3 separate regions of the Homo sapiens genome follow, and all the other regions are reported to be linked to region 1. Evidence: microRNA targets listed by miRTarBase, many of them from high-throughput screens and not tested one by one. Region 1 holds a microRNA gene; each other region holds the end of a gene's coding sequence.
Evidence for each region. The annotated mature microRNA hsa-miR-2114-5p reads UAGUCCCUUCCUUGAAGCGGUC and lies in region 1 at 1,086-1,107, shown strand. An mRNA with a match to its seed (bases 2 to 7 or 8) in the 3' UTR can be bound and repressed. Matches are read on the target gene's strand: a 7mer-m8 pairs with bases 2 to 8, a 7mer-A1 pairs with bases 2 to 7 and ends in A, and an 8mer does both.

Region 1 (3,352 bases):
TCCAATCAGTGCTGAATACAAACAGACCCTTATCCCTAAATTGTGAAATTTAGAGAAAAGTAGAGTCTCAAGGTGCAAAATTTGAACCTCACAAAATTTAACTAAACCGAAGTTTGGGATATAGTAAGAGCTCAAGGAAATGGCTTCTAATTGCTCATTGGGAATAGATTTTTGAGATTAAAACAAATTTTTCAAACCTGTCCAGACTCAGAGGCTTGGGAGTGAACAGTTGTCACTTAACTTTATGGCAGTGGTGGCTGGAAGCTCGCCCACCCTGATTCTTTGTTCTCCCTCCCATAATTGCTCAAACTGAGAGGTCTGTAGGCACCTTAAGGATTCAAAGTGATTTGTGAAAGTTGTAAAGTCCAAGCCTCAACTAGAGAGTTGTTCTTGGAGGTAGGAAGTTTGAGGGACTTAAAATGAACTGGGGGGAAAAAGGCAACAGAGGAAGAGTGAGAACAGAGAGAGAGAAAGGCTCAGAGGAAGGAAGATAGGGGAGGGGGGGAGAGAAGGAGAGAGAGAACGTGAACATTTCCTGGTGATTTTAATTTTCACATCACAAAACACCGCACGTCTGTCAACCGTTATATTTCCTGTGCAGCCTTCTGTGACCACATGGAGTACCTCAGGGAGGGAAGAAAATAGAATTCATTCCTTTCTACCCCCAGCCTGATCTGCCCACAGCTGTTTGGGCACAAAGGAAGGAGGGTAGAGCTCTGGAAAATTGCCAAGAGCGCCTCCTCTCTCCAAGGGGAATGACCAATTTTCACCGCCACTGGAAGGGTGTGAGCTGTCCCAAACTGCCCTCTGGGATTATGCTTACTCGGTTCCACAGGAACATTTAGAGAGACAGAGGTTGCCTTGGGTTATCAGGGCCACAGGCTTCCTGGGTCTGCTTTTGGCACCTAGGATTCCATGAAGAGGGACTGACAGAACCTGAGAGCTGAAAAGCACCTCAAGAAGTCATCGGTCCAGTCTTGCCTCTAAGGACTCTCCATCTCAATCAGCAGGACCCTCACCCAGTCAGCAATGGATCAAACGTCCCAGCTTCTGGGGCCAAAGACAGGCCTCTGCCTCCATGCTCCTAGTCCCTTCCTTGAAGCGGTCGGATAATCACATGACGAGCCTCAAGCAAGGGACTTCAAGCTGGTGGCTTCCAGCAGCTAGCTTCCTGCTTCCGAACCATCATTGCCTCCTATTGAAGTCCTCCCATCCTCCACTCCCACATCTATCCAGGCCCTGGGAAACTTTGCCAAGAAGCAGATGATGGCGTCTGCCTTTGCCTGGGTGATGAGATGACTGGCTTCTGTCCCAGTTCTGCCACTCACCAGATGGATCAGTTTCTCATTGCTGTTATAACAAATTACCACCAACATAGTGGCTTAAAACAATGCAAATTTACTATTATACTTTTGGAGGTCAGAGGTCCAAAACAAATCAGTTTCACTGGCCTAAAATCAAGGTGTCAACAGGGCTGGATGCTTTTGGAGGCTCTGAGGGGAGAATCCATTACTTTGCCTTTTTCAGGTTGGCCACCTGTATTCCTTGGCTCATCACCCCCTCCTCCATCTTCAAAGCACATCGTTTCAATCTCTTTCTTAAGGTATCTTGCGGAGGAGGTCCCAGAGGCACCAAAGGGGTGACAAGCACAGATTGCTTTAACTGCTACTCAGAGAATGACTCTGCGCCAAGCCCTGTGCTGAAGGCTTTACACTCACAATCCTTGATATACACATGGAGCTCTTGTCATCACATCCCTTTTTCTTCTGTCTGTGCCAAATCTCCTTCTGCCTTCCTCTTATAAGGACACTTGTGATTGCATTCACAGCCTTCCCAGATAATCTAGGACAACCTTCTCACTTCAAGATCCTTAACTTAATTACATACACAAAGTCCCTTTTGCCATATAAAGTCATATTCACAGGTTCCAGGGGTTAGGATGTGGACATCTTTGTGGGCCATTATTTAGCCTACCATACCAGTAATAGGTCTTTGGCAAGTAAAGTCACCTCACCTCTCTGAACCTTACTTTCCTCATTTGTTCAGAGGGGAGAAGACTCCTGCCCTGCTGACTTCCTGGGCGCCCTAGGAGGTTCCAGTAAGAGAGTGAATGTGATGACATTGTATGCTGTTGAGTGAACACCAGAATAAGTGCTGAGCCTGGTTCTTGTTGCCCTTCTTATGAAGCTGTGGTCCCCTCAGTTCAGTCACCCAGTGCTATCTTCCTCTCTGGAGCCTTTCCTCTGTGGCCTTTTCCAGGCATGTCTTGATGAATGTACTCCAAGTTAAATGTGTCACTAAGCCAACTGGCTCCTCCTACCCTCTCCCAATGATTGAGCGTATAGAGTGGCTATGCTGACTTTGGATCCCAGGCACTGGCAAGTGAACACCTTAGTTGGTTAAAATATCCCTTCCCACTCTGCTGTGTTATGGTTTCAGTGAGACCCATGTGTATATGAAGAAGATTGTGAGTGTAGAGCCCTCAGCACAGGGCTTGGCACAGAGTTGTTGTTCTCTGAGTGGCAGTTAAAAATGTCTGTGCTTGTTGCCCCTTTTGGTGCCTCTGGGACCATCCTTTACCCCCTCCTCTGCAAGATACCTTAAGACCACAGCTAGCAGTCACAGCAGCAAGTGCAAGCACCTTTTGACATTTATGCCATCCTGGCCCTCTGCCAGTTGCTATCCATATCACTTTGGTTGGCCAAGCCCCATTGTCAGCCTCAGCTGGCCAGCATTCTTGGAGACAGGTCACAGTTTGTTCAACAGCTGATAAGAGGTGTGTAAGGGGCATCAAAGGCTCTGAATGGAGAGGTGGAAAAAGCCCCTGGGTGCATGGCCCTGGATGACTCTTGGGGTTTAGAAGAGACCACGGAGATGACCAATGACCAACAAGCTTTCAAAGGGAAATGCTTGCCTCTACCAAACTCAGGGGAAGTCATATCTTCTATCACCCCGGCGGGGGGCTTCAGTTAAGCTTGTGAGAAGCTGAGAGCAGAAAGACCTTTTCTGAACCTGATGTTCCCACCCCTCATCATGCCACTGTGGAGACAGGATCTACAGGGAACAGGGAGAACTTGGCCATTATTTCCCAAGACAGCCAGGCTGGCAGCTTCCACTACAGGTGCTGCTCTTCTCATTCCTGATCTTCTGAGCACACCATCATTCCCCAGGGCCTTCCACAGCCATCTTCTCTGCTGGGGTGTCCCATAACCTTTTTATGAGTCCCAGATGACCTTGATTCCAAAACCTGACAAGGATATTGCAAGAAATGAACATTATAGACCAATTCCTCTCATGAACATAGTTCCACAAACTCTTAAGATATTAGCAAACCAAATCCAATACATATACA
Region 2 (3,000 bases), not on the chromosome of region 1:
CACGTCCAGTGCTCTCAGCCTGGAATCCTCTTCCTTCTTCATTCACCTGTTCAGTTTATTTCAAAATTTGAGGGATTACTAGGTGTTACACTCTTACTGGGCCCAGGGATTACCTCCTCCAGAGAGCCTTTCTGACCCTTCCATTAGGGGCTCCTCTTCCCCATGGCTACTGTACCGAGGTGGACCTCTGAGCCCCCAGATCAAGACGGTCCCTTGAGCACAGAAACCAGCTCTGATTCATCTCTCTGTGCTTGGCACCAGCCTCGTTCAGGAAACACCCATAGAAGGCACCATCTTCTTACGGAAGAGACCACCTCTGGGGCAGACAGATCCTGGTTGGGATTCTAGATCTGCACTTGATAGCTTGGCCAAGTTCCTTTCTCTCTATCAATTTCCTGGAGTAAAACAGCCTGCCGAGTCTAAATATGAGGTTCTAAACTACCTGGCTGGTTTGCCAAGATAGTCATTATCCCCTTAACCCCAAGGGAGAGCAAGGAAAGATAGGCCACTTAATATCTGGTGCTTTGTAGTCCAGGGACCTAAGGAAGGTGGGAGGAGAAGAAGTTACAGTGAGATTCATCTTTATCTGCCCCAGGCTTAGGTCCTCCTCTCCCTCCTAGTCCTCAGTCACCTAGAATACAGAGCCTGAAAACAAGAACTAAGTACTGGTGTTTTATTTGGAGAGGTGCAAACCCAAGGCATTGGAAGTGAGAAAATGGAAGAAAGGCGGGAAAGAATGGGAAGTAACGTAAGGTGATGTATTTAATAGGCTGGGGTGGGCACTGCTTCATGACAAGCCTTGCAGAGGTCACAGTAGTTCTGTCCACCGGCTACTTGGGAGGCCTCCCCATTGATGGTACTGTTTTGGAGAGTTGGTGCCATGCAGCAATTTATGAAAGGCAGGGGAAAAGGGGGAATTGATTTGCCTGAGTCTCACCTATCTCCCATTTTCCACTAGTCAAAAAAAAAATTTTTTTTTTGAGATGGAGTCTTGCTGTCACCCAGGCTGGAGTGCAATGGCACAATCTTGGCTCACCGCAACCTCCACCTCCCGGGTTCAAGCCATTCTCCTGCCTCAGCCTCTCGAATAACTGGGACTACAGGCGCACGCCACCATGCCTAGCTAATTTTTGTATTTTTTGTAGAGACAGGGTTTCACCATATTAGCCAGGCTAGTCTCAAGACTCCTGACCTTGTGATCCACCCGCCTCAGCCTCCCAAAGTATTGGGATTACAGGCGTGAGCCACTGCGCCCGGCCTCAAATTTTATCCCATAAATATTAACTCCCAGCCAGACACCATGGCTTATGCTTGTAATCCCAGCATTTTGGGAAGCTGAGGTGGGCAGACTACTTGAAGCCAGGAGTTTGAGATTAGTCTGGCCAACATGGTGAAACCCCGTCTCTACAAAAAATACAAAAATTAGCTGGGTGTGGTGGTGCTTGCCTGTAATCCCAGCTATTCAGGAGGCTGAAGCAGGAGAATCGTTTGAACCCGGGAGGCAGAGGTTGCAGTGAGCTGAGATCACACCACTGTACTCCAGCCATGGTGGCAGAGCAAGACTCTGTCTCAAATAAATAAATTTCCCCACACTTCTAAGTTTGCTAGCAGCAACTTGGGATGCCAGATCCCATGCCCTATGCCAGGGCATTCCATCCAAGTCTGTAAAGTGGTGGGAAGAAACAGAAACTCTGGGTACATGGCCAGTGAGTGCCAGGGAGAATGATGCAGTATATGTGCCACGTCTAATACAGTACAAAACTAGTTTTTTCATTTTCTGGAAGAAACAAAGCATAGTGATCCAAGAACTTTCTCAAGGTCACATGGATATTAAGTGGCAAATTCAGGATTTGAAAATAGTCTGGCTCTGGAAACTGGATTTTATGTAGCAAGCAAAGGAGTCACTAAAGGGTTTTAAGCTGGGGAGCGACAAGAAATAAAGAGCATTTTAATGAAGCTCCCAGTCTCTACTGTGCTCCACATTCGCATCTGACTAAACTCCAGCAGAAGCAGGTGGCCCCAGAGAGGTTAAGGGCATCCGAGACAGGGTTTGAGGAGTCTCTGGCTCCAGAGCTCCGTGTAGGCTTCAACACTGACCCATAATCTTCCTGTCTTCATCTAATCCTACACCCACCAAAGAGAAGAACTGGTCAGAGGCAGGTAGGATCTGTGTAGAAAAGCCAGAATGAGGCCGGCTGCGGTGGCTCACGCCTGTAATCCCAGCACTTTGGGAGGCCAGCGTGGGCGGATCATGAGGTCAGGAGATCGAGACCATCCTGGCTAACACAGTGAAACCCCGTCTCTACTAAAAATACAAAAAATTACCCGGGCCTGGTGGCACGTGCCTGTAGTCCTAGCTACTCGGGAGGCTGAGGCAGGAAAATCACTTGAACCTGGGAGGTGGAAGGTGCAGTGAACCGAATTGCGCCACTGCACTCCAGCCTGGGAGACAGAGTGAGACTCCGTCTCAAAAAAATAAAAAGGAAAAAAGGAAAAAGAAAACCCAGAATGAGGAGAGGAGACTGACCTAAGGACCAGCAGCAGGAGGACTGTCCTGCTCTCCATTGTTGTTGTTGGCCTGTGGGTCTGAGGGTCCCGGCCGATGAGTCTTCTGGTGTTGCTTGAGATGGTCAGACCTCATGAACTCCCGGCTGCACTGATCACATTTATATGGTCGATATCTGGTGTGTACCCGCATATGTCGTCTAAGCTCATCAGAACGGAAGAAAGACCATGAACAACTTTCCCAGTTGCAAGAATATGGCCTCTCACCTGGGAATGACAAGGGAGAGATGGAATTTAGAATACAGTAGGAAGGAAGGGGTCTAACTCTGTGAGGCAGAGCAGTCCAGGTTGAGGATTCAAAAGGGAAGGTCCAGGGAACCAGGGAGGGGCAACACAATCAGGAGTGCCCGCCCCAGTCATCTTGGCACAGTCCTCCTGTATGGCAAGTCGGGGGGCCAGTCTAGCTTAGTTCCAAGCTTGGAAGATGAAAGGCTC
Region 3 (3,352 bases), not on the chromosome of region 1:
AATATCATTAAGCACTCAAATATCCAAATTGAGACTCTTAAAAAATGAAGTCTTTCTCCTTAGAGAAAATGAGTCAGCAGGCAGAAAATTCCTTCACCTCCAAATCACTTATCTGTATTCCCTTCTTTATGTGGGCTTTTCCATCCCTGAAATTAAGGTTAATTCCTCCACCTATGCTATGACTCCAATTTATTTCACAAAAGTTGTTCCTCCCAGCAATGTCTTCTTTAATCTACCCTCAACATGTGCATACATTATTAAACCAGAAATGGTCCCTAAGTCATTCTTCCCTTCAATTATATTTGAAATAGTCTTCAACAGCCTACTTGTTCACCCTCCTTCAGTGAAATTTCTCTTGCCAAAGTCTACAATTATCTCATTTACCAATTTACTCTCCTTATTACTTCCTTTATAGCACCTGACACTACTGCCCATCTGAGATTCATTTATCCCTTGGGTTCAGTGACATCACTCTTCTGCCTTTTCTCCTACATACAGGGCCATTCCTTTTCATCTTTGCACAATTCCTTCATCTACTTCTTGTATATTGATGTTTTCCTGGGTTGTATCCATGATCCCTTTCTCATTCTAATCTGTACATTCTCATGGCCAATTTACATGTGCCAAGCTTTTCACTAACTATATCTTAATTACTCCTAACTCAAGCCATCCAGCTCAAATTGACCTTTTGGGTTTGGATGACTCATTTAACATGTATAAAATCAAACTGTTTACCCCTATATTGCCTACAAGGCATATCACACCACCATCCATCCAGGTAAAGTTAATCTACCCTGTGTGTCAATCACCTTCCCCAATTATTTGATTGCAAAAACTATGCCTTATCTATTCTTACTACATTAGCATGTGCAACATATTCTTCACTGACTATCCTTGCTTGAGCTTAGAGCCTCCTTCACCCATCACTGGAGGCTGAATTCTAGGCTTCAGTCTGTTCAGCAGTCTTCAATCTCCTAAATTCATCCTCTACACATTCGTGCAATACAGTTTCCATCACTTAAAGTCGTTACTTAGTACCCTAAATTTCAGAATAAAATTCAAATTCCTTAGTTTGGCAAGTAAGACCTTTTGTTACCTAGCCACTGCCTTCTTCTCAAGCTTTTCTTTTTCATTACTTCCTATAGATTCTCTACAAATGTAATATGCTGTCACCCACCCACCCTACACCTTTGCATATGTGGCTCCCTCTATTCAGGATCTCACTTCATGAAGAATACCTACTATTCTTCCAAAACTGGGCTCAGACATCATGGTCTCTGGGACACTATTGCTGGTCTCTCCTGGTCTGCTTGGTTAGTCTTCCATATTTCTGCATCCCATGCAAATCTCTCCATTTGTATTCTGCAACACAGCATCACAGCTTAACTATTTATCTGTGAAAACCCCAACACATTATGATTTGCTTACTCCCTTTAACCTCCTCTTCTCCACCCACTCAATTCATGACTTCTTTAAGGTCTGTTTCTTTCTTCTATACAATTTCTAGCGCTCAGGATAATATCTGGCCCAAACTCAGGCTTAAACAAACATTTCTAAGTAAATCAGTTTTGAAATTTACAATTATTTTTAAAGAATTTCCTTTGCAGTCTGAAACTTTTAAAACCCCACGAGGAAAAAAAACTTTTATTTCATAAACTGATTCCTTCTGAAGACTGTCACAAGTGATAGGCTCTTTAAACAATTAGGATTTCATCTGCAGCCAACTAAAAAAATATTAATAGCTTTAACCTTGAAGTGATTGCCTAAACAAACAAAATGCTTCAACCTAAACTATCTAACATTACTGTTCAGAGCATAGCAAGTATGGTTTCATAATAAATATGACTTCAAGACAATAAAGAAAAAATTCTGAAAACAAAACTAGGAAATGTATAGAAAATATGGGAGGCTATTAGATGTTGTTTGGACATGACTACAACAAAGAAGAGAACAGATTTTTTCTTTTTTAATAAAAGCCATGCACGAAGTTTGACAGTAAGTCAGGAAAAGGTAAATTCCAGGCACTAAGAGGTAGTTCAGTTAGTTTTTATCTCTTATTGGTCCTTTGCTCTAATACTGCATATATATATATATTTCAGGAGAAAGTGCGAATGTAGTCCCCCACTACCATAAATTATGCAGTTGAGTTTTCCACATTTTGGGAAATTGAAGGGGTCAGCACATCTGGAGTGCAATGGATAAGCCTTGCCCTGGGAAAACCACCTTCGTGATCATGGTAATCTTCCCTGCCAGGTAAGTATATATTGCATATATTTTTAAGATCAATTGTTTTGTTTGCTATTAAAATGTTTGCTGTAATAAATATGCTTATATTTATATAATAGTAGTTTATACAAATGTTTTTCTAATGAAAAATTCAGCACCTCAGCACCCAGACTTTTCTTTTTTGCATGTCATAGATAGCATATATTATATAAAGAGATTTTATAAACATACCTTTTATCTTACAAATGGCCAATTTCAATGTCTGCAACAGTGAACTGTCTCGGGATATTTTAAAAAGTGAGTGACAAGTATAAAAGCTTTTCCCATAAGTTATTACATAGCTAAAGTTTATTCTTAAAACTTAGTATCTGATGAGAACTAAGAGTTTTCTCATATTCATTATATTTAATAAATCACTCTCAAGCATGTATTCTCTGATGAGTTTTGGTTTAAGGCTTTCACACATGCAAATCGGCTTTTAAGGAGTCCTCTTCAATGTGAATTTTATAATGATTAGTAAGGGATGACCTCTGGCTAAAGAGTTTCCCACATGCATTACATTCATAGGGTTTCTCTCCAGTATGAATTCTTTGATGTGCAATAAGTGATGAGCTTTGTCTAAAAGTTTTTCCACATGTATTACATTTAAAGGGTTTTTCTCCTGTATGAATCCTCTGATGTTGTATAAGAGCTGCACTTTGGCCAAAAGACATCCCACATTCTAAACATCGATATGGTTTCTCTCCAGTATGAATTCTCTGGTGATTACTAAGCGATGAGTTACACCTGAATGTTTTGTCACATTCGTTACACTTATAGGGTCTTTCTCCAGTATGCATTCTCTGATGTTGAATGAGAGCGGAACTCTGTCTGAAGGCTTTTCCACATACTTTACATTTACATGGTTTTTCTCCAGTATGAATTCGCTCATGAATAATAAGTGTTGAGTGGGAGCTTAAGGCTTTACCACATTCATTACAATTATACAATTTCTCTCCAGTATGAATTATTCGGTGTCTATTAAGTCGTGAAATAGAAGTAAAGCCTTTCCCACATTCATTGCATCTATAGGGCTTTTCTCCGGTGTGAATTCTTTCATGTTGAATAAGAGAGGCACTCTGGCTGA

Region 2: the mRNA of KLF17 is a reported target of hsa-miR-2114-5p. The part of its 3' UTR that is shown has no 7-base or 8-base seed match.
Region 3: the mRNA of ZNF354B is a reported target of hsa-miR-2114-5p. Seed matches in the 3' UTR shown: 7mer-A1 at 2,115-2,121.

The regions. Positions count from the first base shown.
Region 1 is chrX:150,226,931-150,230,282 of GRCh38, forward strand. MIR2114 (microRNA 2114) reads left to right here and starts at 1,074; the gene lies at 1,074-1,153.
Region 2 is chr1:44,130,284-44,133,283 of GRCh38, reverse strand. KLF17 (KLF transcription factor 17) reads right to left here. Exons shown (of 4, transcript NM_173484.4): 3 at 2,528-2,772; 4 at 1-46. The coding sequence ends at 2,528. Among named protein-coding and RNA genes, the nearest start is that of KLF18, 9.8 kb to the left of the region's middle.
Region 3 is chr5:178,883,624-178,886,975 of GRCh38, reverse strand. It overlaps ZNF354B (zinc finger protein 354B), which reads right to left. Exons shown (of 5, transcript NM_058230.3): 5 at 1,956-3,352. The coding sequence ends at 2,685. It also overlaps the pseudogene RNU1-39P. Among named protein-coding and RNA genes, the nearest start is that of ZFP2, 11 kb to the left of the region's middle.